Linked DNA regions of Homo sapiens. The protein of the gene in region 1 interacts with the protein of each later gene in a pairwise test. Each region holds a gene or a part of one and is shown in the gene's direction. Other genes may lie near its edges. The genes, in order: MAPK6, RAP1GAP, SEPTIN5, TTK, IDH3B, SUSD4 and SMS.

Evidence for each region.
Region 2: the proteins of MAPK6 (region 1) and RAP1GAP interact in a two-hybrid assay, tested with the Homo sapiens proteins (one large-scale study listed by BioGRID and IntAct).
Region 3: the proteins of MAPK6 (region 1) and SEPTIN5 interact in a two-hybrid assay, tested with the Homo sapiens proteins (one large-scale study listed by BioGRID and IntAct).
Region 4: the proteins of MAPK6 (region 1) and TTK interact in a two-hybrid assay, tested with the Homo sapiens proteins (one large-scale study listed by BioGRID and IntAct).
Region 5: the proteins of MAPK6 (region 1) and IDH3B interact in a two-hybrid assay, tested with the Homo sapiens proteins (one large-scale study listed by BioGRID and IntAct).
Region 6: the proteins of MAPK6 (region 1) and SUSD4 interact in a two-hybrid assay, tested with the Homo sapiens proteins (one large-scale study listed by IntAct).
Region 7: the proteins of MAPK6 (region 1) and SMS interact in a two-hybrid assay, tested with the Homo sapiens proteins (one large-scale study listed by BioGRID and IntAct).

What each region holds. Positions count from the first base shown.
Region 1 is NC_000015.10:52,017,888-52,022,018, forward strand, and holds the start of MAPK6 (mitogen-activated protein kinase 6), read left to right. Parts: upstream 1-1,331; 5' UTR 1,332-1,489; exon of another isoform or gene 1,490-3,677; intron 3,678-4,131. UniProt on the Homo sapiens protein: Atypical MAPK protein. Phosphorylates microtubule-associated protein 2 (MAP2) and MAPKAPK5.
Region 2 is NC_000001.11:21,599,858-21,603,357, reverse strand, and holds part of RAP1GAP (rap1 GTPase-activating protein 1), read left to right. Parts: intron 1-444; coding exon 445-554; intron 555-1,518; coding exon of another isoform or gene 1,519-1,560; coding exon 1,561-1,674; intron 1,675-3,500. UniProt on the Homo sapiens protein: GTPase activator for the nuclear Ras-related regulatory protein RAP-1A (KREV-1), converting it to the putatively inactive GDP-bound state.
Region 3 is NC_000022.11:19,717,503-19,720,660, forward strand, and holds part of SEPTIN5 (septin-5), read left to right. Parts: exon of another isoform or gene 1-1,235; coding exon of another isoform or gene 1,236-1,316; intron 1,317-2,099; coding exon 2,100-2,196; intron 2,197-2,303; coding exon 2,304-2,390; intron 2,391-2,612; coding exon 2,613-2,736; intron 2,737-2,817; coding exon 2,818-2,952; intron 2,953-3,046; coding exon 3,047-3,158. UniProt on the Homo sapiens protein: Filament-forming cytoskeletal GTPase. May play a role in cytokinesis. May play a role in platelet secretion.
Region 4 is NC_000006.12:80,035,649-80,039,148, forward strand, and holds part of TTK (dual specificity protein kinase TTK), read left to right. Parts: intron 1-826; coding exon 827-951; intron 952-2,318; coding exon 2,319-2,399; intron 2,400-3,500.
Region 5 is NC_000020.11:2,661,417-2,665,523, reverse strand, and holds the start of IDH3B (isocitrate dehydrogenase [NAD] subunit beta, mitochondrial isoform a precursor), read left to right. Parts: upstream 1-1,307; 5' UTR 1,308-1,335; coding exon 1,336-1,371; intron 1,372-1,518; coding exon 1,519-1,599; intron 1,600-1,765; coding exon 1,766-1,864; intron 1,865-1,957; coding exon 1,958-2,078; intron 2,079-4,107. UniProt on the Homo sapiens protein: Plays a structural role to facilitate the assembly and ensure the full activity of the enzyme catalyzing the decarboxylation of isocitrate (ICT) into alpha-ketoglutarate.
Region 6 is NC_000001.11:223,221,177-223,224,676, reverse strand, and holds part of SUSD4 (sushi domain-containing protein 4 isoform a precursor), read left to right. Parts: intron 1-1,045; coding exon 1,046-1,428; intron 1,429-2,456; coding exon 2,457-2,485; 3' UTR 2,486-3,500. UniProt on the Homo sapiens protein: Acts as a complement inhibitor by disrupting the formation of the classical C3 convertase.
Region 7 is NC_000023.11:21,975,209-21,978,708, forward strand, and holds part of SMS (spermine synthase), read left to right. Parts: intron 1-1,852; coding exon 1,853-2,028; intron 2,029-2,751; coding exon 2,752-2,906; intron 2,907-3,500. UniProt on the Homo sapiens protein: Catalyzes the production of spermine from spermidine and decarboxylated S-adenosylmethionine (dcSAM).

The sequences.
Region 1 (4,131 bases):
TCTGCGGTTGGAACAAGTCTCCCCTTTCTCTTGGTTTTTTTCACTCATTACCTCTTCTTCACACCTGGTACTCAGCTGACGTTGTTTTAAATATTAAAAAATATAAAGCATTCAAGCTCACCCCAACCACTTAACTTCATTACTCTGTGATTTTTTTTTTTGAGACAGAGTTTCGCCCTTTCGCCCAGGCTGGAGTGTCCTGGCGCGATCTCGGCTCACTGCAACCCCCCGCGGGGTTCAAGCTATTCTCCTGCCTCAGCCTCCCGAGTAGCTGGGATTACAGGTGTGAGCCACCACACCCGGCTACTTTTTGTATTTTTAGTGGAGACGGGGCTTTCACCATGTTGGCCATGCTGGTCTCGAACTCCTGGCCTCAGGTGATCTGCCCGTCTCGGCCTCCCAAAGTGCTAGGATTACAGGCGTGAACCACCACGCCTGGCCCTTTGTGATCTTTTTGAAGTGGTCTTTGCCTCTTTCTTGAAGATGCCCATAATAATGACTAGAAGGGCTATTCTATGTCTGGTTCTCAGCAAGATGGTGATGAAGTCATTGAAAAAATATGCTGACCTGCGTCTCTAATTTCATAAATACTTAAATTTCACATAAACACTGAAAAGGCTCCTTGGACTCAATAAGCCATGATAAGTAATGTAAGTTTGCTTTTAGCCAAGTGGGCCCAAGAAGGCACCCATCCACCTTTCTACGTTTCATAGTGCATCCCTTCCCAAATTCAAATTGTCCTATCCCAGTTCCTGCAACAAGCCAGGTACTCTGGCCTCCCAGTCTTTGCTCACAGAAACACCCTCCCCACCTCCTGGTTATATCCGCTCCTCCGGGATCCAGCTGAAAGGCCACCTTGGCGACCACTCCTGAAAGCCTTCCTCCATACTCTGGCAGAATGAATGACCTTAGTATTGGCCTCTAACGCGTCTGTCTTGTGCTCGGGCTGTCGCCTTCCAGCCAATCCATCTTAAGGTCCACCCTTCCTGGAGACTGAGGCCTCTTCCTCTCGGATTGCCCAGTGCCTTGCACGTAGTAGGTGCTTAGTAAACGCTGGCACTGGGTTTGGTCACTTTGTTCCCTTAATGCCAGGGCAGGTAGTAGAGCAAACGGCCCCAGCTGTCTTCCTCCCTGCCCGCCCGCAGGCAAAGCCCCCAGGAGACGCCGGACGAGCCGCGTGCCTTTCCCACCGCCTCCGCGGCGCGCGCAGCCCAGTCACGGGCGCTGGAAATTCCGGCGCGTGCGGGTGCGCTGGGCAGGGCGGGGGCGGGAGAACCCGTGGAGTGAGCCTGTGACGTGAGGGGGCGTGGCACCGCGAAGCCCCGCCCCCTCTTCCTCGCCCTCTCTCGCGGGTCGGGGTTACATGGCGGCGACTGCGGCAAAGCGAGAGCCTCGGAGACGCCGCTGCCGCCAGCACAGCCGGAGACCTGAGCCGACACTGGGGGCAGTCCGCGAGCCCCGCACTCTCTCGATGAGTCGGAGAAGTCCCGTGAGTGTGTGTGTGTACGTGTGCGGGGTGCGCCGGCGGGGCGGCTCGGGAGGGCGCCGCGGCGGGCCCGGCGGCGGCGGCGGCGGCGGCGACGGCGGAGCCGGCTCCCTCCTCCATTGTGTGTGACCCTCCGGCGGCTGCCGCTCAACAAAGGCGTTTTTGTTCGGTCTGCCGCCCGCCCCCTGCTCGCCCGCCTGCCCGCCCGCTCGGGCCTGGCCGGCGCGTCCCCGCGCGGGCGGGCGGGCGGCGGGCTGGGGTCCCCGCGTGGGGCCGGCCAGGCGGCCAGCGCGCCCCTCCCACCCGGCACGCCCCTCGCCGGTCGCCCTGCCAGGCCGCGCCCGCTCCCTGGCCCCGCACGCCTGCTGCCGTCCCGCCGCCTGCGCCTGGCTCCGCGGGTTCGAAACCCAGCCGGACCGGACCGGAGGGCGGGCGAGCGAGGGGCGGCGGCCCGGGGAACATGAGGTGGCGTGGAGTCTCGCCTTACTGGCACGCTGCCTTTCGAAATGCTCCCGCGTCTCCTCCCCCATCCCACCCGGTGACTCGGCCTCAGCTGACTCCGGCCGGGCAAAGTCTCCAGTGGCGTAGCGCGCAGCGCTCACCCGGCTCGTCTCAGAGCCCTGAAGTCCGCCCAAGTTTTGAGTCTTGCCATGAATGAGGTACTGAAAACTCGGAGACGAAATTCCTAATTTCCTCCCTCGGCCCTACAGTCTTTCCTTAGCTTCTTTCGGGACCTTAAGTGGTGGTCTGTAAAAGTGCCCAAATGAAAGCTTGTTTTGTCGGTTCACCAAAAAGGGCCTTGTCACTTTGCTGTGCATTTTAGTCCGCCTTGTGAGTTGTGTCGAAAAGTAAAGGTGTTTTGGCATCCTTTTGTTTCTTGGCGAGTGTAGGACCCAACCGGTTTAGGTGTTAGGGGGATCTCTGTGCAGCGGGAGCTTCTTGATTCCTTTCCTGTTTTATTTTTTCTTTTGCTTGTTCATTGGAAAAGGTCCAGTGAAAGGGACTGGTGAGTTGGAATTAGAAGCCTACTTGTATTAACGGCAGAATTCGTGTTCATTGCTAAAGATGCAGTCTCAGTAATGACTTTTTTTTTTTTAACGGATACAGATGATTTGTCAAGGGGAAAAATTAACACGCCATACAATGAAGAGCAAGCAGCTTCAGAGTAATTTTCTGATGGCTGATTCTTCTAGCCTGTCTCTTACAGTTCCAATTGCACATGTCCTCCCTCTTTAACGCTGGAAAACTGAGATGGAAAGAATGATCTGACCAGAAGAATGTAGGGTCCAAACAGGGCCTGGCCCTGAAATCAGGAATTTCTTCATAGAAATATCAGATTTTAATGTTTAAAAAATAATTTTGAATTGGGTGAAAGGAACTTTGTCTTTAGATAGTAGTTGTTCAAACATGTTTATGAAGTGTTTGCTATGTGCCAGGGATTGTAAAGTCATTTCACATATGTTACATCATTTATTAAGAATTGCCTTAAGCTTGTAAAATTATTCATTGATGTCCTGAATTCAGTAATTGCAGTTAATCTAGAAAATATGCCAGATTTGAGCAGAACATATTTGATCACCTAGGTATTACTGTTGAGAAGAAAACACTGGAAAATGGAGACTATTTTAGAAAAAACTTCGTATATGAGGATATTCTGGAATTCATTTATTTGCAAAAGAGGATTAGAAGTAGTCGTTGGCTACTTTCTGTTATTAAAAAATCCAGAGAAGAGTGATTTGAAGTCAGTTAATTTTGTAATAAAAAAATGCACACATTCTAAAGACTAATGTTAGCACTAAAAGTGTTGCAGTGCTTTACATAAATTCATTTAAAGCATCGTGAGAATCATAACTGACAAAATAGTAAGGTTTGCTGACTCAGGGTACTTTGCTGAAGGGGATGGGGGTCGGGTAGGAGGAAGCTTACAAGTGCTGCTGCAAGTTTTGAGTTGGATGATGACTCATGCTGCCCACGGACTGCTACGTGGCTTTTTTTTTTTTTTTTTTTAAATACACTGTATTTTTTTCTAAATGATAGGCTAAAATGTTCCTGTCCACATTGAAATTCTCTCTCATTTTTTCTGAAGAGGAACAGCAGTTTCTCTAAAAAAGTAATGGCTTCTTAAATTGCATTTTAAAAGGATATCATATACCCTACAGGTGGAATTGTGTAACATTTGCTGAGAGGAAAGGTAAAACCAATTTCTGGTCAGGTGCTGAAATTAAATGTTTGATACTAGCAGTTTTTTGGCTACTGCTGAGAGAGATTTGTTACAGGTTGTTTATAAAGGACAGATAGTACTTTTATGGTGTCGGTAGAAATTGACCTTATGTTTTTATTGGTTATGTGAAAGTTATCTTTATATTTAATATTTAATCAGATATGGCTCTGAATATGAAAGTTTCACTCAGAATTATTAAAACATAATTATATATTGTGCTTTGTGATTTATGTGAATTTTCTGTTTTAATAAAGACAATTTGAAATAGGTATTAGTCACTATTTTTCATGGTTTTTTTTTAAAGATAAGCTGAATGTACAGTTCTAAGTTGAAACTTGGTAATAAGATAAATCTTTTGACTGATTTTAAAACAGCCAACGTTTAGCAAGGTGGCTTAAAATAAGATTGAGAGGGGGAAAAAGAT
Region 2 (3,500 bases), on another chromosome or scaffold:
CTGGGCCAGAACCTCCCCCAGCCAATTTGGAGGTTCCGGGGAGGGGCCCTAGCTGGCACGGGGTGGGACTTGGGTTGCTACACTGCCCTCTGACCACTGCCCTTAGGCTGCAGATCCCACAGAGCCCTGGGGGGCGGGGAGCGGTAGCCATTCTGAGGACTCGGCCTCCTCCCACCCTAGCCCCCTCAGGATGCTGTCCTAATCCTGGGCCAGTATTGACGTGCAGTCCTGCCGTGTGAGCTCGGGAGAGCCCCTTGCCCTCCTGGGGACTGTTTCCCTTTCGTAAACTGGGAGGCTGTCTCTGGGAATGGATATCTTCTCTCGTTCTTTCTTGCTCATCAACTCTGCTTCAGGGCCTGGGGCAGCAGGATCCCCAGAGGGGATGTGGGGGGGGCACTGGGGCTCCCAGGTAAGGTGGCACTGAGTTGGGGCCTCTCCCCACAGTCACTGATTGTCCCTGGGAAGAGCCCCACGAGGAAGAAGTCGGGCCCGTTCGGCTCCCGCCGCAGCAGCGCCATTGGCATCGAGAACATACAGGAGGTGCAGGAGAAGAGGTGGGTGAGTGGGGGACAGTGCCCCATTCCCCTGCATCCCCATCCCTGAGCCCCATTCGGTGGCAAAGCAAGGCAGGCAGAAGGGAGTGCCCGCCCCTCTGCCTCTCCATCCCCACTAGTGACAGCTGTGTGGTCAAGTCCCTGCTGCGTGTCGGGCACCAGGGCCAGCACGTCACCTAACGTGCCACATGCAGATCAAGAAGCGGTAGGTCAGAGGAGTCAAGGGGCTTGCCCAGATCACACAGCCAGTGATGGGCAGAGCTAGGATCTGAGCCCTGATCTGTCTAGGGCCAGCATCCGTGCTCTTCCCACGGCCCCAGCGCATGTGGGAGGGCCTAGTGCTGGTTTTCAGGGTGGCCACAGATGGGCCTGGGGGGTCCATGAGTGTGGGCAGCATGAGGGCAGTGAGCCCAGGCCAGCAGCAGGGCTGCCCCCGGACATCAGAGGCTAGCTCCCGGCTGCCTCCCCGATATTAACCATGTGTGACCTTGGGCGAGTCACTGACCTCCTCTGAGCCTTACTGTCCCAACCTGGAAAAGGGACAAGAACACAACCCATGGCATGGGGCTGCTGTGGGGACTCAGGGCACTGCGTGTGAGGCCAGGGCCAGGTCCCCTGAGAGGGCTCCAGGACGGGAGTGGGCATTGTCCTTGCTGCTGCCAGAGCTCCGCATGCTGTGAGTCCTGGGTTCAGGTCTTGGCACTGCCACGTCCTAGCTGTGCGTCCCTGGGCAGGTTCCTTATCCATAATGGGACAGCTATACCTGCTCCTGTGGAGAGGACCTGGGAGGAGTCCCATCCTGTCCCATATAGCCCCATCAGTGCCAACCCCATCACTGGCCAGGCTAGCCAGGGAGCCCACAAGACTGCTCCAGGGCTGGCCCTGAGTATAGGGGCGTGGGTATGAGGCAGGAGGCACCGTGACTCCCCTCACCGCCTGGGCCTCACGCTACGCCTGATGCCAGGCCTGGTGCTGAATCCCCCCGCTGCCCCCGTGTGCCCCGCAGGGAGAGCCCTCCGGCTGGTCAGAAGACCCCAGACAGCGGGCACGTCTCACAGGAGCCCAAGTCGGAGAACTCATCCACTCAGAGCTCCCCAGAGATGCCCACGACCAAGAACAGGTTGGGGCTCAGGGCACGTGGGGCTTGGGGGCTTGGGAGTGGTGAACCGTCCTTCCCCTCCCCTGCCTGGGCCCGGGACAGCACAGGAGCCTTGACTGTGCCACAGCAGGGTGTCAGGGGGACCTGGGCATTCTCTGGGGCCCTCCTTTGACATATACCCAGCGAGCACTTTGTGCACGCCCAGCCCCGCGCCCGGCTCTGGAGCACAGAGGTGCCCTGCGCATAGGTCCCCGCCTCACGGCCGCAGGTCCATCAGAACGCGGCCTCATAGGCTGTTGCCGGATCATGGTGATAGGAGGAACCCGAAGCAGGGTTGGGGGGATGAAGAGGGACTGGGGGCAGAGGTGTTTTAGATGGGTCCTCGGGGAGACACCTCCATGGGGTGACATTTGAATTGGGAACTGAACCAGCCCTGCTAGGACTGGCATGGCAGAGGAGCTCGGCCAGTGCAGAGGCCTGGGGCACACTCCAGGGACAGAAAGAAGGGTGGCTGGGAGTGGTGACGTATGCCTGGAGTCCACCTACCTGGGAGGCTGAAGCAGGAGGATGATTTTAGCCCAGGAGTTGGAGGCTGCAGTGAGCTATGATCATGCCTGTGAATAGCCACTGCACTCTAGCCTGGACATCATAGCAAGACTCCATTGCTTAAAAAAAAAAAAAAGAGTATCTGAGGGGCTGGGCCTGGACAGACATTGTGACATTGTGCTGGGTGGTGGCGGGAAGGAGGTTGGAGAGGTGGGCAGACACTGGCTTATAGCTTAGCAGGCTGTACAAGAGCTTTGACTTTTTTTTTTTTTTTGAGACAGAGTCTTGCTCTGTCTCCCAGGCTGGAGTGCAGTGGCACAATCTCGGCTCACTGCAAGCTCCACCTCCCGGGTTCACGCCATTCTCCTGCCTCAGCCCCCCAAGTAGCTGGGACTACAGGTGCCCGCCACCATGCCCATCTAATTTTTGTATTTTTAGTAGATACGGGGTTTCACCGTGTTAGCCAGGATGGTCTTGATCTCCCGATCTCGTGATCCGCCCGCCTCAGCCTCCCAAAGTGCTGGGATTACAGGCGTGAGCCACTGCGCCCAGCCTAAGAGCTTTGACTTTTATCCTAAGTGTGACAGGGAACCTTGGGAGGATTTTAATTACGAGGGCGATGCTTTAAGAAGCTGACTTCGGTTGCTGTACAAAGAGGCTGGAGTGGGGTGGGATGGAAGCAGAGAGGCCAGTGAGGAAACTGTCCCTGCATTTGGTGTCCGTTGGCTGAGCTGCCTCTGTGTTGGGCTCTGTGGGAATCAAGAGGACTCAGCCCAGGCTAAAGAGCCGGGTAGGTGAACAGAGAGGCAGGAAAGGGTGGCAGGGACCAGGGAGACGCAGTATGCAGGAGCCAGAGTGGGGAGGGTCATTCTCACCTTGGGAGGAGGAATCAGGGAAGGACTCCTGGAGCGAGAGCCCTAGGCTGATTTTTTAAAGGCACATTTGCTTTTCGGGATTTGAGAGGACTGAGACTCCAGGCAGGAGGCATAGAGGCCCTGAGCATGAAAACCTTGTGGGATTAAGAGAGTAGACTGTGGAGTTGCCTGGACCTCAACCCCTGCCCTCCCACCTGTGCTGAGTGACCCTGGGCTGTGTGCCTGTCCCCTCTGTGCCTGGTGTCATCTCATCTGGAAGATGGGTATAATAATCATAGCGATAAGATAATTCAGGTAAAGGCACGTAGAGCAGTGCCCGGTGCAGAGTGAACGTGCACCCGATGATGTTAGTGTCGCTAACCGCTGCTGTTTTTGAACACCACGCCAAGGATATTGTGCTTTACCTGGGGAAATGGGAGGCCAGGA
Region 3 (3,158 bases), on another chromosome or scaffold:
ATCCCACCCCCACCCCTGTCTCTGAGGGCAGGGCCACCTGAGGGCTGCAGGGCAGCGCATGGGTGGCCGGCGTTTATTCAGCAGGCTGGCGGGGGCTTCCAAGTTTTGCAGGGACCTCCAGTACTCCGGCAGCCTGCACCCTTCCTTTCCCTTCCCTTCCCTTCTGTCCACCCTAAGCCTCCTAGGGGACAGGCAGGCTGGACTTCAGAAAAGGTGGGCTCTGCCCTCCTCCGGTCCCCCGAATGTCTTGGGAAAGAGTCCACCAAACACACATGCACACACCCGCGCACACGCACATACCCAATGCATGCACACACGTACACACACACGCATACACGCATGTATACACGCGCACACACGCAGGCATTACACACACACACATTACACACACACACCCGCACGGACGCGCACACACAAACGCGCGCACGCACGCACGCACGCACGGGGGAGGTCAGCCCCAAGCAGGGCTGGGGAGGGGTGCAGGGCGCGGCGTGTCTGTGGGCACTTGGGGCGTCGAGACGCCGCCGGGAGGTTTTCGGGCAAGTCTGCGAGAAGACGGCGGGCCCTGAACTGGGCGGGTACCCGCGCTGTTGCGCGTGGGTCCCGGGAGCGGCCTCCGGCGCCCTCTGGCGGGCGGAAGCCGCGCAGCACCTCTTGGGGGCGGGACGCGCGGTGGCTACCGACTCCCGGCCCGCCCCGGCCCGCGTGCAGGACCCGGTCGTCCCCTCCTGCTGTCCTGGAGCCCGGACTGAGGCCCCGGGGGCGCGGCAGGGCTCCCGGTCCACGCGAGCCATGGCCCGACCGCGCCTCGGCTCAGCCCTGCCCTCCGCAGCCGCTTTCGGGTGGCTCCGCCCGCGGCCCAATTTCCAGGCGACCGTTTCCCGGCGACGGCGGGCGGGGCCGTCTCTGCCGCCCCCCGCCGCGCGCTCCGCGGGCGCCTGCGACGCCCCGCCTCTGGCTCGGGTGCGGGAGCGGGGCCTGCCCGGACTGCGACGCCGCCACAGCTTGGGGCCAGTTCGCCCAGTCAGGGGGATGGCTCGGTCGGCCTCGGGGGTCGACGATCCCCCGGGTAGGCGACGTGCCCTGTCCAGGCCTCACTTCCCGCGTCCGCAAAACGGGGTGGACAACGCAGCCTAAGGCAGAGCCGCGCCAAGGTCCCTCGCTGTCGCCGGGCTCTGGCGGCCTGACCGGGCCTGGGGTCCGAGCGTGCCCCCGGGCCTGGGGGGGTCGCCGCGATGGACTCGCTGGCAGCGCCCCAGGACCGCCTGGTGGAGCAGCTGCTGTCGCCGCGGACCCAGGCCCAGAGGCGGCTCAAGGTGCGTGTGTGGAGAGGGCGGAACGTGGGTCTGTGACCCCGCGGGCTCCGGGACTCGGCATGGGGTCCCCGTCCCCGCGCGCCACGGCCCGCCAGCGCCTAGGCTCAGCCCTTCCCTCCGCAGCGGCCTCGCAGGTCCGCGGCCCCACGGTGGGGCGACGTGCCCTGTCCAGGCCTCACCTCACGCGACTCCAAAACGCGGCGGAGAATGCGGCCGTGGGACCCCTCCAGGGGCCCCAAGGGTCTGCGGGGGCTGGGCGCCTGGGCGCGCGGGCGGGGGAGGCTCGGCGCCGCGGTCTATAAATAGGCGCTGCTCCGCCACCGCCGCTGCCGCCGCCCCCGCGGCTGGATCCGGGCCAGGTGGGGCCTCCCGCCCCCTGGCACTCTCCGGAGGGGTGAGTGTCGAGGCCCCCAGCTTCTCCGGCTTATGGAGGGCCTTGAGTGTGTCCCAGGGGTCCCAATCCTGCTGCCCTCTGCCCGAGGAGGGAGGACATCGCCTGTGCCTGCTGCGGCCTGACATCTCCCCACGGAATAAATACAGTGTCGGTCCCTGCAGAGCCCTCCCTGGGATTGGGGCCAGGGGTGCCTTCTCCTGCCACCACCTCGCCTGCCTTCTTATCTCCAGGCTTTTGCCCACGGGCCCTCCCCTTATTTTTGCCAACGAAATGCCCCACCCTGGGAACCGTACCCTCTGCTGTCTCCTCATACCGCATTTGGTAAGAGACAGGGTATTGGGCTTCTGGAGAAACCTTTGTGTCCCTACCCTGTTCCATCCTGTCCCCAGGACATTGACAAGCAGTACGTGGGCTTCGCCACACTGCCCAACCAGGTGCACCGCAAGTCGGTGAAGAAAGGCTTTGACTTCACACTCATGGTGGCTGGTGAGTGGGCCAGGCTCCTCGGGGGAGTGGCTGGGGTCACTGGCCAGCCAAGCTCTGTCGTTGGAGCCCCAGACCTAACGCAGCTCCTTCTCTGTACCTGTGTGCAGGTGAGTCAGGCCTGGGGAAGTCCACACTGGTCCACAGCCTCTTCCTGACAGACTTGTACAAGGACCGGAAGCTGCTCAGTGCTGAGGGTGAGTGGCCCCCAGGAGGCCCTGGCACTGATCCCCAGTCCCCTTCCATGGGACCTCTCCAAGGACTCCCTTTCAGGTCCAGCTCCCACTGTTCTGTTCTCGCGGTGTGGGTCCCCTGGGGGTAGGGCCAAGGCACCAAGATGGATGAGGACGAGGGTCCTGGCTGCCAAGGGTGAGGGGCTGAGGGTTGGAGAGGCCCTTCCAGTGGCCCCTTCCCCGTAGAGCGCATCAGCCAGACGGTAGAGATTCTAAAACACACGGTGGACATTGAGGAGAAGGGAGTCAAGCTGAAGCTCACCATCGTGGACACGCCGGGATTCGGGGACGCTGTCAACAACACCGAGTGGTGAGTGAGGCCTGCTGAGAAAGGCCTTGCCTAGGCGGCCACAGCACTCGAGGCCTGGCCTCACCTCCCTCCTGCCCACAGCTGGAAGCCCATCACCGACTATGTGGACCAGCAGTTTGAGCAGTACTTCCGTGATGAGAGCGGCCTCAACCGAAAGAACATCCAAGACAACCGAGTGCACTGCTGCCTATACTTCATCTCCCCCTTCGGGCATGGGTGTGTGGCTGTCCTGGGGCCAGGCTCGGGAGTGCAGCCCCTACAATATGGCCCCCTGGCTGTGCCTATGCCCACCCTTGGCTGCTCTCGGCAGGCTGCGGCCAGTGGATGTGGGTTTCATGAAGGCATTGCATGAGAAGGTCAACATCGTGCCTCTCATCGCCAAAGCTGACTGTCTTGTCCCCAGTGAGATCCGGAAGCTGAAG
Region 4 (3,500 bases), on another chromosome or scaffold:
TTTTTCTCAGTATTAACGTAGTCTGTCATCCTTATCTCCAAATACTTGGATTATAGCAGGTCTAAGACTTTGGGGTTCAGGCATCCTGAAAATATGAGATGTTTACTTTATTCATTCTCCTAATCATTTTGTATTGTATGCCCTGTGTGAGAAGTTGGTTTTTTTGTTTGTTTTTTACTGTTAGGCCTACCTTCTGGGTTGGTTTTTACTTGTCCTTGGTTCTTTTTAGGGTTTTTCTCTGCCTTTACCTTATCCTATATATTTTTTTGTTCTTAATAACTGTTATCCTAGTTAATTGTAATTTATCTCCTCCTCATCTCTCTCTCTTAAATTATCTTAAAAGATAATTCACCAGTGATCAAGATCAGGGCTATAGGGGTGGAGATGTCAGGAGCATTAGGGTCTTACTGTCTGGCAGTATAATTTGTGATGCTCTCTAGTGGGCAGTGAATCACAGTGGTTAAGAGGATAGATTCTGAAGCCAGACTGTCTGGCTTCAATTCTAACTGTCACTTAGGCTGTGTGACCTTGTACAAGTTACTTAAACTCTCATTGCCTTAGCTTCCTTGCCTTATAGTGGGGATGATGATAATACTTCAGCATTGATGTGAAGATTAAATGATGCAGTACTGTATAAACAATGAACTTAGAACAGTGCCTGGCACATAACAAGTGCTATGTAAATATTTGCAGAATATATAAAAAAATTATTGAATTGGGTTCACTAATTGAAGGAATAAATACAGCTTGACCTGTAGACTGTGAATTTTTTGGTCCTTAGAATGTTTTGCATTGTTTAATATTACAGTGGATTTTTATTTTAAAGGCATTGTTCACAGTGATCTTAAACCAGCTAACTTTCTGATAGTTGATGGAATGCTAAAGCTAATTGATTTTGGGATTGCAAACCAAATGCAACCAGATACAACAAGTGTTGTTAAAGATTCTCAGGTAAGACTTAATGTTGGTTCTCTCACAGTAGAGTTCAATTCTTTTTTTACCTGTGAAGTATTATATTGCAAATGAGTGTTATATTTTTAATCACCTCATTCTTCAAAGGATTTGAAGTCTTTTAATAAGAATAGATTTAAAAATATAAACCATGATCATTGTAATGTAGAATAGAAAGTCAAGATCAAATAGTAATATCTCCAGCAATTGTGAATGGTTTTCCTATAGCTGAAGTAGAGAAACAGTAATACCTTCCTTGGAAATCACTTGGTCGTGATCAAAAATTGACCTGAAAATTTGGCTCAGAGTTTCCTTGTAGCAAAGAGGGAGTTGCAGTTATATGTTTTTCACTGTCTATGAGGTAAGATCATTTTTATTCTTCTAGAGAAGCCGACCTTTTCCTATCACTGAAATTGGAAAAAAAATTCTTAAGTGGGCCTTCATATTGTAAATGCCATAAGTATTATAAGCAACATTTTTATAATAGATATTGCAACAGCAAACTAAAAGACGTTGTTCTATAAAAACTAAAGCAATGGCACCAAAGTATATCTAAAAGATATTCTTGCTTGGAACCAAGATGATATGTTCCATGTTTACAGATTTTTGATGTGAGTCCACCTTAATCCCAGGAGTAAAATAGACTTTGTTAGGAGGAATGATGGACGACATGCCCTATTTGACAGTCATGTCTCTTTGTATCAAAAGTATGGCAGATCAATGAGTTGTAAATCAGCTTGACAATATCTTCCATGTCAAGGCCCTAAAGTAGATATATTCTGTGTTTAAAGCAAACCATGTATTTTAGAAGAAAATGAGCTCATTGTAAGGTTGGCATATCCTACTGTAGAAACTCAGAGGACTACTGTGAGACAAAGCTAGATGGTATTTTTGTTTGTATATTGGTGGGCTTATTTAAAAAATATATTTTTTTAAAGTTGAGTATGTTACAACAAGAAACGAATGGTAAGTCCCTCAATGGCCTCAAAGTTTATGGCCATTAATAGGATTTTAGCCTGGAGAGTTTTTAGGGCAGGCTTTACTAGTTGCCCAGTATAATCATAGAAAAAGCACAGCATTCTGAAAGGAGTCACTTTGCTGATTATGAACCCAACTCGTTTTGCTGCAGTTGTGAAGAAATTTGATATATATATCTTAACGTTGTCAGCAGTTATTTGAAATTTGCAAGGATATCATTGAAATTTATAATTACCCAAGTTTCCAAGGATCTGGCATTTGTATTTTTAAGAATCTAAAACTTAAAGTATAATAATAATAATAATAATAATAATAATAATCTCAAAAAAAAATCTAAAGCAGAATTAAATATTTTCATTGATTTGTGTTTTCTCTGACTTGGCATATAGGTTGGCACAGTTAATTATATGCCACCAGAAGCAATCAAAGATATGTCTTCCTCCAGAGAGAATGGGAAATCTAAGTCAAAGGTACTGAAAAGATTATTTACATCACAATTATCTGGCAACAGTAGGGAATGCACTATTTTCTGAATAAACTTACCAGATAACAATTTCTTTAAGTTCTAAAACTTTTTAGGCCATTACAGAGACATTGCTGGTTTTTTTCGTTTCCAATTCTTACTATTTTTCACCACTTATTCGTTTGTGAATTCTACATTTCCAAGTACAGCTGGAGAATGTAATTGTTTTCTGGCCTGCCACTGGCTACTTTTCCACTGACTTTATCTCGCTACCTCGATGAGTTTGCGTTAGCCTCATGGGTGCCCTTTGTCCGGGGCTCCTTTTGCCTACCTTGATGCCTTGGGCTCCCAGGCTAACCCTTCTTTCTCTACATCAGTGTAACCAAGTGGGTGCAAGCACACATTGTCCCAGGGACCTGTATTCATTCAAGTCATAGATCTGCCTCTTCATTAACAACTGTCTTTGGCCAAGTGACTTGCCTAGTTTCCCTGTCTCTAAATTGTGCCTATAGACAGTGCCTATTGTAAAATAAATTGAGGATTAAATGGGAAAGAATATATAAAGTACTTAGTACATTTATCCAGCTCAGAATCATTGCTTGATAAATGTGTTTTTATTTACTAAATTTTATTTTCCTCCTTAGAAAATCTGGCTTGTAAGTGTTTTTCAAATAACTGGCATACAATTTTGCCAAATGTTTTCATAAAATTCTTTTTATATTTGTTTAGCCTCCACTCTTCTAAAACTTAAATTTCTTGTGTTTTTATTAGACTTTCTGTGGTTTTGTTCTTCTTAAATAAGCAGTTCCTGACTTCATTTATCAACTCTATTTTCATTTGCTTTACAACTTGAGTACTTGTGATAACCAGAAACTTTTCTCTATGATTAACCATATTTATGGTTTATCATTTAATGCCCATGACAATGTACTTTTATAATTTCTATATCAGAGTTGAGAAAACAGACACATAGCATTACCAGTTAGTAACACATCTTCAAGATATGTTAAAGGTAATATTAATTTCATATAACTAATTATTTACTTGAAATAGCTGAAATGATTGGAATTGTGTAATTGGCTTAGATATAACTATTCTATTTAAAAGA
Region 5 (4,107 bases), on another chromosome or scaffold:
CAAATGAAGTATGACTCACAAGCCTGCACTTTTAACAAGAGCTCTGGTCCATCTGGATAGGTGATCCAAAACCATACTTCCAGAAGAGCGGGTGAGGCAAATCTTCCTGTACCAGTTTGTCTTTAGGTGTGTCAATTGTACACACCTAAAATCGTGACTGGAGGCCGGGCTTGGTGGCTCACGCCTGTAATCCCAGCACTTTGGGAGGCCGAGGCGGGCGGATCACGACGTCAGGAGATCGAGACCACGGTGAAACCCCGTCTCCACTAAAAATACAAAAAAAAAAAAAAAAAAAAAAAAAAATTAGCCAGGTGTGATGGCGGGCGCTACTCGGGAGGCTGAGGCAGGAGAATGGGGTGAACCCAGGAGGCGGAGCTTGCAGTGAGCCGAGATCGCACCACCGCACTCCAGCCTGGGCGACAGAGCGAGACTCTGTCTCAAAAAAAAAAAAAAAAAAATCGTGACTGTAATTGTTTTGAGACGGGTCTCGCCCCGTCTCCCAGGCTGGAGTGCAGTGGTGCCATCACGGCTCACTACGGCTTCCACCTCCCGGGCTTAAGTGATCCTCCCACCTCAGCCTCCTAAGTAGCTGGGACTACAGGTGTGTCACCACGCCTGGCTAATTTTTAAATTTTTTGTAGAGTCGAGGTCTCCCTATGTTGTCCAGGCTTTTTTTAGTTTTTATGATTGTTACTTTAAGGATCAGTCTGAAATTCCCTTTAGTCACACTTACACGCTTGAACTCATTTCTGACACTAGTTATGGGCCTGTCCTGGGGAGTTCAAGTCCGGGACACACTATTAGGGAAATAACTGTCAGAGCAAAGAACAAAACCCTGTAAGAAAAAACTACGAGGCGACGGGTAATACAGAGGTCCTGGGCACTCTCGGAGACTGGCGGAGAAACCCGACACACACCTCCCATGTCTGTACTGTATTCCTCGAGAGCCTGACATACAGGTATTCAGTGAGTACTGGTTAAAAGAATAACAAACGCATTGACACACAAATTTTAACAGCTTCCCAAGGATTTTCTCTCAATCGCTTGTTAAGCTCAGGTCCTCGTCTGATAAACATGACGCTACATTTTTCCCCCTAATGTTATTTTGAAGTTTCGACGTAGATTAAATATGGCGACTGAAAACAAAGCAAGAGACAAAGTGCTTGCGCATCCCATGACCTCCCCACCGGCAAGGAAAAGGAGAAACAGGCGTGAGCAAGCAGTGCTGGTTGGCGCAGAGAGAGAAATACCAGGAACTCAGTACAGGCCGGAAGTCGGGGTACGGGGCCGCGCCAGCTTCAGGCGTCACTTCCCACGCGACTTCCTGCGGGAAACATGGCGGCATTGAGCGGAGTCCGCTGGCTGACCCGAGTGAGGCCCCGGGACATGTCGGGCAGGGGCGGGCGAAGGAGCGGAGAGTTTGTCCTAGGGTTTCCTAAACAGGGCAAAGTCAACTGTAGTGTTCGGGGTCTGGATGTCTCAAAGCTGACCTTACAGGCTTGTGTGTCCCTGTTGCAGGCGCTGGTCTCCGCCGGGAACCCTGGGGCATGGAGAGGTCTGAGTACCTCGGCCGCGGCGCACGCTGCATCGCGGAGCCAGGTATGCACGAATCTGGCTGGGGTCTCTCTTACGACCCTGTCCCTTCCTCGCTGCTCCCTCCCCTGGCTTTTCCCCACCCCTCCCGGGTCTCCCTACTTCTCTACTCCCAGGATCCGTGCTCCCGCCCCAGCTCTATCTTTACTTCTCCCCTCTTCCCCCAATTGAGGCCGAGGACGTGAGGGTGGAGGGCTCCTTTCCCGTGACCATGCTTCCGGGAGACGGTGTGGGGCCTGAGCTGATGCACGCCGTCAAGGAGGTGTTCAAGGTGAGTGGCCTCGGGGATCAGACAGTAGAGGACAGTAGTGTGTTGGAAAGGACTTGGCCTTGACTGTGATGTTTTGGGAACCTGTCTCTGAAGGCTGCCGCTGTCCCAGTGGAGTTCCAGGAGCACCACCTGAGTGAGGTGCAGAATATGGCATCTGAGGAGAAGCTGGAGCAGGTGCTGAGTTCCATGAAGGAGAACAAAGTGGCCATCATTGGTATGTGTGCCCTCTTGCCACTTGTCCATGTGCCATTTAAAATCAAATGACCAAATGTTTATTAAGCCCTTCTCCCCACATGCTATGCAATTATATTAACTCCAGGGCAACCACCATTGGTATTTGGACATTTGTTCCTTCCCATTGGGAGCCCAGGAGTTGAGAGATCATGTCAGCTGTCTATGCAGAAAAGTTCCAGGGGTTCTGAGTCTGTCCTGAGGCTACATCAACTGTCATCAAATCTTATTCATTGCATTTCTGGAATACCACTTTTAGCTGCCCCTTTTCTTTTTTTTTTTTTCCCCTCCCTTCCTTCCTCTTTGTTTCTTCTTGCTCTGTCGCCCAGGCTGGAGTGCAGTGGCGCGATCTCGGCTCACTGCAACCTCCCCGTCCCTGGTTCAAGCAATTCTCCTGCCTCAGCCTCCTGAGTAGCTGCGACTACAGGTGTGCACCACCACACCCAGCTAATTTTTGTGTTTGTTTTGTTTTAAGACAGAGTCTCGCTCTGTCGCCCAGGCTGGAGTGCAATGTTGCCATCTCAGCTCACTGCAACCTCTGCCTCCCGGGTTCAAGTGATTCTCCTGCCTCAGCCTCCTGAGTAGCTGGCTGGTATTACAGGAGCGTGCCACCATGCCTGGCTAATTTTTGTATTTTTAGTAGAGATGGGGTTTCACCATGTTGGTCAGGCTGGTCTCGAACTCCTGACCTTGTGATCTGCCCGCCTTGGCCTCCCACAGTGCTGGGATTACAAGTGTGAGCCACCATGCCCAGGCTAATTTTTGTATTTTTAGTAGAGAGAGGGTTTTACCATGTTGGCCAGGCTGGTCTCGAACTCTTGACCTCAAGTGATCCACCCACCTCTGCATCCCAAACTGCTGCGATTATAGGCGTGAGCCACCGTGCCTAGCTGCCCCTTTTCTTTTGTCTTCCGCGCTTTAATCTCCTCATTTGATTTTTTTGGCTTCTAGTTCTGCCCCTATAGTTCATCTTCCATATCTCTTCTTGGAAAGAACAGCCTGATTTTCCAGGCCCAGCCTTACCATAGGAAAGTCAGTACTTTATAAGTTGGCCCTTAATTTTCTGCCTTGGTTCCACAACTCTTGTTCTGTGCTTCAATCACACTAGATTGTGTGTTAGATTCCAAATATGTACTACCTGACTTATATTGTTCCCTCCACCCAGAACGTTCTTTCTTTGGTGCTACCTGTTAGAGTCCTTCTCACTCATTCACTGTATTAGTTTCCCATAGCTGCCGTAACACACTACCATGAACCTGGTGGCTTATCATTAACAGAAATGTATTCTCTCACAGTGCTGGAGGCCATCAGTCTGAAATTAAGGTGTTGGCAGGGCCCTGCTCCCTCTGAAGGTTTAGGGGAGAAACCTTTCTTGCCTCTTCTGGTGGCTCTTGCTGTTTTTTGACTTGTAGATGCATCACTCCAATATCTGTGGTTTTCTTCCCTCTCTGTCTCGGTATCATTTTTCTCCTCAAATATTTAGCCCTGGATGGGACGATTTTTTCTCAAGATCCTTAACTTAATTACATCTGCAAAGCCTCTTTTCCCAAATAAGGTCACATACATAGGTTCTGGGGCTCAAGGCATGGCTGAAGTGCCAGCTCTTCTGTGCTGTATCCTGATATTACTGGAGAGGATTTCCTCTTTGTGTTGCTATGCAAGTTTCCCATGGTACTTATCATGTCTTTCATATTTTCTGTCTTTCCCAGTGTACCGTTTGCTTCTCAAGGGCAGGAGTTGTATGGTTTTAGTTGTTATCCTTATTGCCTGACATATAATTGATATTCATCAGTAGGTGTTGGGTTAAAAAATGTCAAATAAGGAGAAGGCACAGATAAAAAGATCACAGATCTGCTAGCATTGTTTTTCAACTTGTTGTTAAACCCAGGCTCTTTTTTGATAAATAGAAAAAATCTGTTCTCCGTTTTGAAGTTTCAACATAAATTAAATATGTTGACTAAAAATAAAGCATTAAGGCCGGGGCGGGTGGATCACTTGAGGTCAGGAGTTTG
Region 6 (3,500 bases), on another chromosome or scaffold:
CACGTGAGGGAGCCCTGCAGACATGCAGACTCACTTTGCCGCCGCTCCTGGAGCCCTCACACCAGCAACCCGGGCCTTGCTTAGAAGAGTGGCGGGGGGTCAGGAGGTGGCGGTGAGCCTGCGTAGCTTGAACGGGGTAGTGACATAGTGCTCACAGCTTTCCTTTTTTTTCCTTCTTTCCTTTTTCTTTTTCTTTTTTTAAATCTAGACTAAAATGTAATGATTTTTATACTGAATGCAGAAAACAACAAAGAAACATGATGAGCATAGGGCCAGCTAGTCCCTCTGGGCACTGAGGGTCCACAGTTACTGTTTTTTGTTTGTTTGTTTGTTTGTTTATGAGACAACATCTCGCTCTGTTACCCAGGCTGGAGTGCAGTGGTGCGATCATGGCTCACTGCAGCCTCAAACTCCTGGGCTCCAGGGATCCTCCTGCCTCAGCCTCTTGAATAGCTAGGGCTACAGGCACGTGCCACCACATGTGGCTAACATTTTTATTTTTTGTATAGGCAGGGTTTCACTATGTTGCCCAGGCTGGTCTCAAACTCCTGGGCTCAAGCAAAACCTCCCAAAGTGCTGGGATTGCAGGTGTGAGCCACCACACCTGACCTATTTTCTGTACTTTTAACAGTGCTATCCCACTTTCAATCCCATCCTACAGGACACTTCAGAGGTGCACTGGGCTGCTCTGTTAGAAAGGGTTATGTTGTCCCTTGCTCCATGAGCTTATGGCCAGAAGGCCAAAGCCCACAGGTCAAAGGAGCAAGGGAAAAAGCATGAGGAGATAGTAAGGCCCAGAGGCAGGAGGACACGAGAGAGTGACAAAAAGAAAACCTCCTCTCTCCGGAGCATGGGCAGCCGGGATGGCAGCATCATCTTCCAGAGGAGTCCCTGAAAGGAGGCTGGTTCTTCCATATTATCCTCCATACGGGACTCTGCTGCCCATCGTGGGTCCTGAGGACCCCGAGTGCAGGAGGGAGTATGGGTGGCCTCATCCCCAGAGTGGCATGGCTCTCACATGTTGGCACTTCTTTCCTTTACACAGGGGGCCTCCCCGGAGTTCCAGCAGTGACCCTGACTTTGTGGTGGTAGACGGCGTGCCCGTCATGCTCCCGTCCTATGACGAAGCTGTGAGTGGCGGCTTGAGTGCCTTAGGCCCCGGGTACATGGCCTCTGTGGGCCAGGGCTGCCCCTTACCCGTGGACGACCAGAGCCCCCCAGCATACCCCGGCTCAGGGGACACGGACACAGGCCCAGGGGAGTCAGAAACCTGTGACAGCGTCTCAGGCTCTTCTGAGCTGCTCCAAAGTCTGTATTCACCTCCCAGGTGCCAAGAGAGCACCCACCCTGCTTCGGACAACCCTGACATAATTGCCAGCACGGCAGAGGAGGTGGCATCCACCAGCCCAGGCATCGACATTGCAGATGGTAAGTGCTTGCCCCAGGGCCCAAGCCACACCTGCAAACACCTCCGCACCAGCATCTTCAAGCCAGCTCCTTGCTACGCACGCTCCACCCCCCAGCACAGAGTCGAATCAATCTGTTTACCTCTCACTCAGCTTAAATTGCTTCATGCTCTCTCTCCATGTAGAGGCCTTGGGCAAGGCCAATTATTGTAGGGAATGATCATCATCTTGCAAGTAATGAGCCCATTAATGGAAATTTCAAGAGGCACCAAAAGGCATCGAGCCATCCAGAGTAGAAAGGCAGCAGTGGCCGGTGCTTCATTTTTGTGGTGTCTGTATGATCTGGAATGTATTTCTTCTTTATTCCTTAATTAGATAGGACTCCTGGAAGTGGGGCTTAGGGACAGGATGGCACATACATGCCAGGAAGAAGGATCCAGAGGCACGCACTAGGGCCCAGCAGTGTGTTCTAGCCCCAGAGTTCTGTGTACATAGAAGTTATTTTTACCAGATGTGAAGTAAAAGATGCATGTGTACCTGTCACAAGGAAGGGTAGATTCATGGTAAAATAAGGAAAATGTGTCAGATTGATTAGGTCTCTGTTTCCTACAGAAGGGGAGCCCCAGTGCCACTTTGCAAATGAGAGCACTAATTTGGCTTATATTGAGAGTAAATGGCAGTAATGACGTGGAAACAGAGGTCTCCTGGGCCACCACAGTGTTCCTTTTCTGCAAACCACGCTGCCTTTCTGTACTTGAATTTGCAACTTTCTGGCTTGTGTGACCATTAAGGCCTATGGTTAAAATGTAACATTTTATTTTTTATGAACTGGAAATAAGATCATAATTGTTTCCTGGCAAAGAACAATTGTTACAGAAAGATGTTGTATAGGAGGTTGATTTATTTGGTTATTAACTGGTATGTGGAACTTAACATTTTCTTCTCCTCACTGATTTGAGAAACTGTAGATATTTTAATGAGGCATATAATTCCAGATCGTCATGGTGTTTTCTGGTTATGTTAAGCTAATAACCGTCTCTTCTTTTACAGAGATTCCTCTAATGGAAGAAGATCCCTAATATGGGTCAAGATCCAGATGACTCTCCTGCTCCTTCGGGGAAAGGACCTTGTATCTTGGAGTGAGGTCACAGAAGGATAGAGCCTGGGGGCAAAATGTCTAACTTGTCTACATGGGGACCACAGTTCACATTATGCATCTCAGGCTCCACAGTGAGGCTGACAAACTGCAATGGCAGTGCTTTTAAATGAGATTTGAGGATTCACCAAGACCCATGGGGAACCGGGGCAGCAGGGAAGCCCTCGCGTGGTCTTGGATGAGGGGTGTTAAATGTGTATCGTGCTGTGGAACATGGGACAATTCCACGCACATCCCACCGAATCATCACGCATCCCATTGACTGGCAAGTACTCCCCGCCCCCTCTGAAAGCATGTCACATCATGTAAATTTGCTTCTAACATCTGCTTCAAACTGTCTCTGGACTCCAAATTTGGATGGGTCAGCCTCTGCAGAAAGTTTGTGTTGAGATGCTGGAAGAACAGCAGAGCCTCCTGCACCCTCAGCAAGGGACCAGCTCCCAAAGGAAAGGTCCTTGTGTGACATTTGGAGAATCTTCCTTCATCCAGACAACTCTACTCGAAGCAAGACGAAAGCAGGATGTGGCAGTTGCAGTGAGAAAGGAAAGGAAAGATGGGCAGACTCTGCTTTCTGGAAATTTCTTCACAAAGTAGAGCTCATGAACTCTGTGCTGTCTTCTGGTAACATATCATCAGTGTTTGTATTCATGGTGTGGCACATGGATCCATGGCATTGGGTAAATCTGGTGGTTTTTACACATGGTCAGAATGTGTTCAAATACATCTCATGATGGAGACAGTAACCAAGGTAATGTTTTGTTTCAGCATTTTAAAAAGACTCCACTTAACATTTATCTCAGAATCATGAGCCTCTCTCTAGTTGACAATTGTCATTGTTCCCCCAGCCCCAAATTGAACCATACATTTATTTTCCAAAACAGAAATTGTTTCTGTAAACATATCCGACCTTCAAAAGAAGTGTGAGGTTGGATTTTTCC
Region 7 (3,500 bases), on another chromosome or scaffold:
TACCTCCTGGTAGCCCGTTATAGGGCTACCAGCGAGATGCCCTTTAATGCTAGGTTGAGCACTTCATCAGGGTAATGGCATTTACATCCTGTTAAGATCCTTCTTTCTTTGCTAGTCTTTAAAAAAACCATAGAGTTACAATGTAGGAAAGAGCTCTTCACCTTAGCCAAGGCACTATTGACACAATTGAGAACAGGCACTGTTTAGTTTCAGTGGGTTTGCCTGTAGTGCAGTAATTGCCGATAGGTGGCTGGCTGTCAAGGAGAGGGTAGTCTTCCTCCCCTGGAAGTGAGTGACTTTGTCGTTCATCCAATGCCATGGGTGGCTCACTCTCACCTCACTCCCCACCATCAGCCAGGGGTGGAAGAGGCTTCCTCCAAGTCCTGTTCGCCTGCTCTCTAGCAGTTGTCCTGATTGGTGCTTCACATTTTACAATTTACAAGAAAAACCCTCTAGAATGCCTCACATTCTGAAAGCTGAATTTGTTCACATGGAAGGTGAAGAAGTGGTTAAATGAAGAGTTGTCAGGATGACATGAATTTATGGGAGTTTGCCTTTTCAATCTCGGTGTTCTTTATAGATGTTAGTATTCCCTCATAGAAAGCCTTGTTAACTTGTAACAGGTTTAGACTGTACTCTTGGAAGCTGGTGAGCAGGGAAGGGAAAGAGACTCATAAGAGTACGTCAGGCCGCATATCCCAGCATTTTACATGTCTACAGCTGTACATCATGGCGTTTTAATGTTGAACACTACTGTGTTTGAGAACACATGACTCACGCAGTTGTGTTATGTATGCAGTGAGCTCTCGTTTTCTTTGTGTTTGGGTTAGACTTGCCAAGCCCCTTTTCCAGGTCTTTTTTTTCCTGTCATTTAGTGTCCTCTGCTGGTACCTTCTAGTACATTCATCCTGTGAAAAATACCGGGTATTTACAAAAGAATGAATGAAAAAATCATCATTTTGCAGCCTCTGTAGTAGTAACTGGTTCAGGCCAGAATCTTCTGCATGCTAAAACCACTGGTAAAGGTTTGTTGGGGGGTGAGGACTTCTACCTAGTTTCAGAGCACCACCCCACAGCCTGCTTAGTAATTTCAGAGGGTGAAAAAGGTACCTTTGCAAATGGAGAGAGCCCATGAATACCACTTTAACCAAGTGATCACAGACTTAGCATCACCAATAATAGGACAGATACACATCTTGTGTTCCCGATGTGATGCCTGTGTAATATATGTCAACCTGATTCTAACCATGAAGAGTGAGAGATTATCAGGTAAACCCACGAGTCATTTTTCAGCAGAATAGCTGGTCTGTACTTGGAGATATCAGTGTCATGAAACATACCAGTAAAAAAAAAATTATACGTTACATGAGGATAAAAAAGAAAAAAAAAACAGGGAAATGCAGTGTATGAGCCTTTATTCAAGAGCAGAACATCTATAAAGGATATAACTGGGGACACTTGAAGATGGACTCTGTACTAGATAACCATATCATACCCATGTGAACTGGTGTAAATGTGGTAATGTCCATGTAGTTATGTAGATAGTCTTAAGAGACAGATGCTGCTGGAGCATTTGAAATATGAAGTGTGCAGTGGCCATCTTCTCCTTCAGCTTTTTGTTAGAGAAAATCTAAAGCATGACAGGATTTTTTAAAAAGTGAACTGTGTACAATAGTTGTCAACATTTGGTGGTGGCCGTGATTATATAAAACTAAAAGCCCAAGCTTTGGATTCGTTTTGTGCTTGTCAAAAGTCGGCAGTCATGTGGCTTTCTTTTGCACACTCTTCATCCTAGCTCCACTTGTAAGGCAGTGTTCTAGTAAGGTACATTTCTGTTTTTCTCTTTTTCCAGATTACCACCCATAGTGCGAGGAGGAGCCATCGACAGATACTGGCCCACCGCCGACGGGCGCCTGGTTGAATATGACATAGATGAAGTGGTATATGACGAAGATTCACCTTATCAAAATATAAAAATTCTACACTCGAAGCAGTTTGGAAATATTCTCATCCTTAGTGGGGATGTTAGTAAGTATTCCATCCCTGCCCCGATCACGTAACAAAGTGGTGATGTGTTGAATGATGGTGTTTTCCTGACAATTACTACTGTCGTGGATTTGTTTGAGTTTGTTTTTGACACTGCTGGTTTTTGAGATGCACATTTATGTCATATTAACCTGTGGATTGTCTGGGCTTTCACATAAACTTTGTCTTGACATTGCTTCCTTAGTGATGAGTATTTGGATTGTATTTCAAAAGAAAATGCATTTGCATATTTAAAAAAAAAAACCTTTTTGTTACAGAACAATTCAAACCTAAGTAGACAAACTAGTGTGATGAACCCACATGTACTTACCATCGAGTGTGAACAATTACCACCTCCTAGCCAGTCTTATTTTACCTAAACCCCAGTCCACTTTGTCCCTCTCATATTATTTTGAAGCAGCTCACAGACATCATATTATTTCATTTGTAAAGATGTAATTGCTTTTAGTTATTCGGTATATTGACACATTTTTAAGGCTGGATTTTCTTCCCACTGACTAATGTCCATTTGTATTAGGTGTCAGATGATCAGGGTTGATGAAAAAGTCCTCAATGGAAAAAAAGCTTGCAAATTGTTCACAGTTTTAAAAAATTGAAAATGAAAAATTTACATTTTGGTCTAGATCCCAGCTCTTCAGTGTGGTGGGGCCAGGTGGTTTGTGTGTTAAGGTAGACTCACCATTTGGATCTGTTTCTCCTCCCTAGATTTGGCAGAGAGTGATTTGGCATATACCCGGGCCATCATGGGCAGTGGCAAAGAAGATTACACTGGCAAAGATGTACTCATTCTGGGAGGTGGAGACGGAGGCATATTGTGTGAAATAGTCAAACTAAAACCAAAGATGGTCACTATGGTAGAGATATCCTTTGTTGTATAAGAGAACAAGTTCAGTGGGCTTCTTTTGTTTCCTTCCTTCAGTGTCTCACAACTCAAATTAATGTTACCACAGACTAGAGGCAAATGTGTTACCTAGACTGCCTTGAACAGACAATTTAGTAACAGTACCCTTTTATGTGGCCATCAACAAAGAAATAATCAGCTGGGCACAGTGGCTCATGCCTGTAATCCTAGCACTTTGGGAGGCCGAGGCGGGTGGATCACCTGAGGTCAGGAGTTCAAGACCAGCCTGATCGACATGGCGAAACCCTACCTCTACTAAAATTACAAAAATTAGCCAGGCATGGTGGCGGGCACCTGTAATCCCAGCTACTCGGGAGGCTGAGACAGGAGAATTGCTTGAACCCTAGGTGGCAGAGGTTGCAGTAAGCCAAGATTGCGCAACTTCACTCCAGCCTGGGTGACAGTAAGACTCTGTCTCAAAAACAAACAAATAATCTACCTAGTTGAGGATTAAAGAGCAAAGGACTTTGATACTGTGTCTGCTGCCTAGCAGTTTCCAAAATGGCTTCTCTAAAGCCATCTCATGAGGAGAAAAGAAGATTAAGTTCCTTTT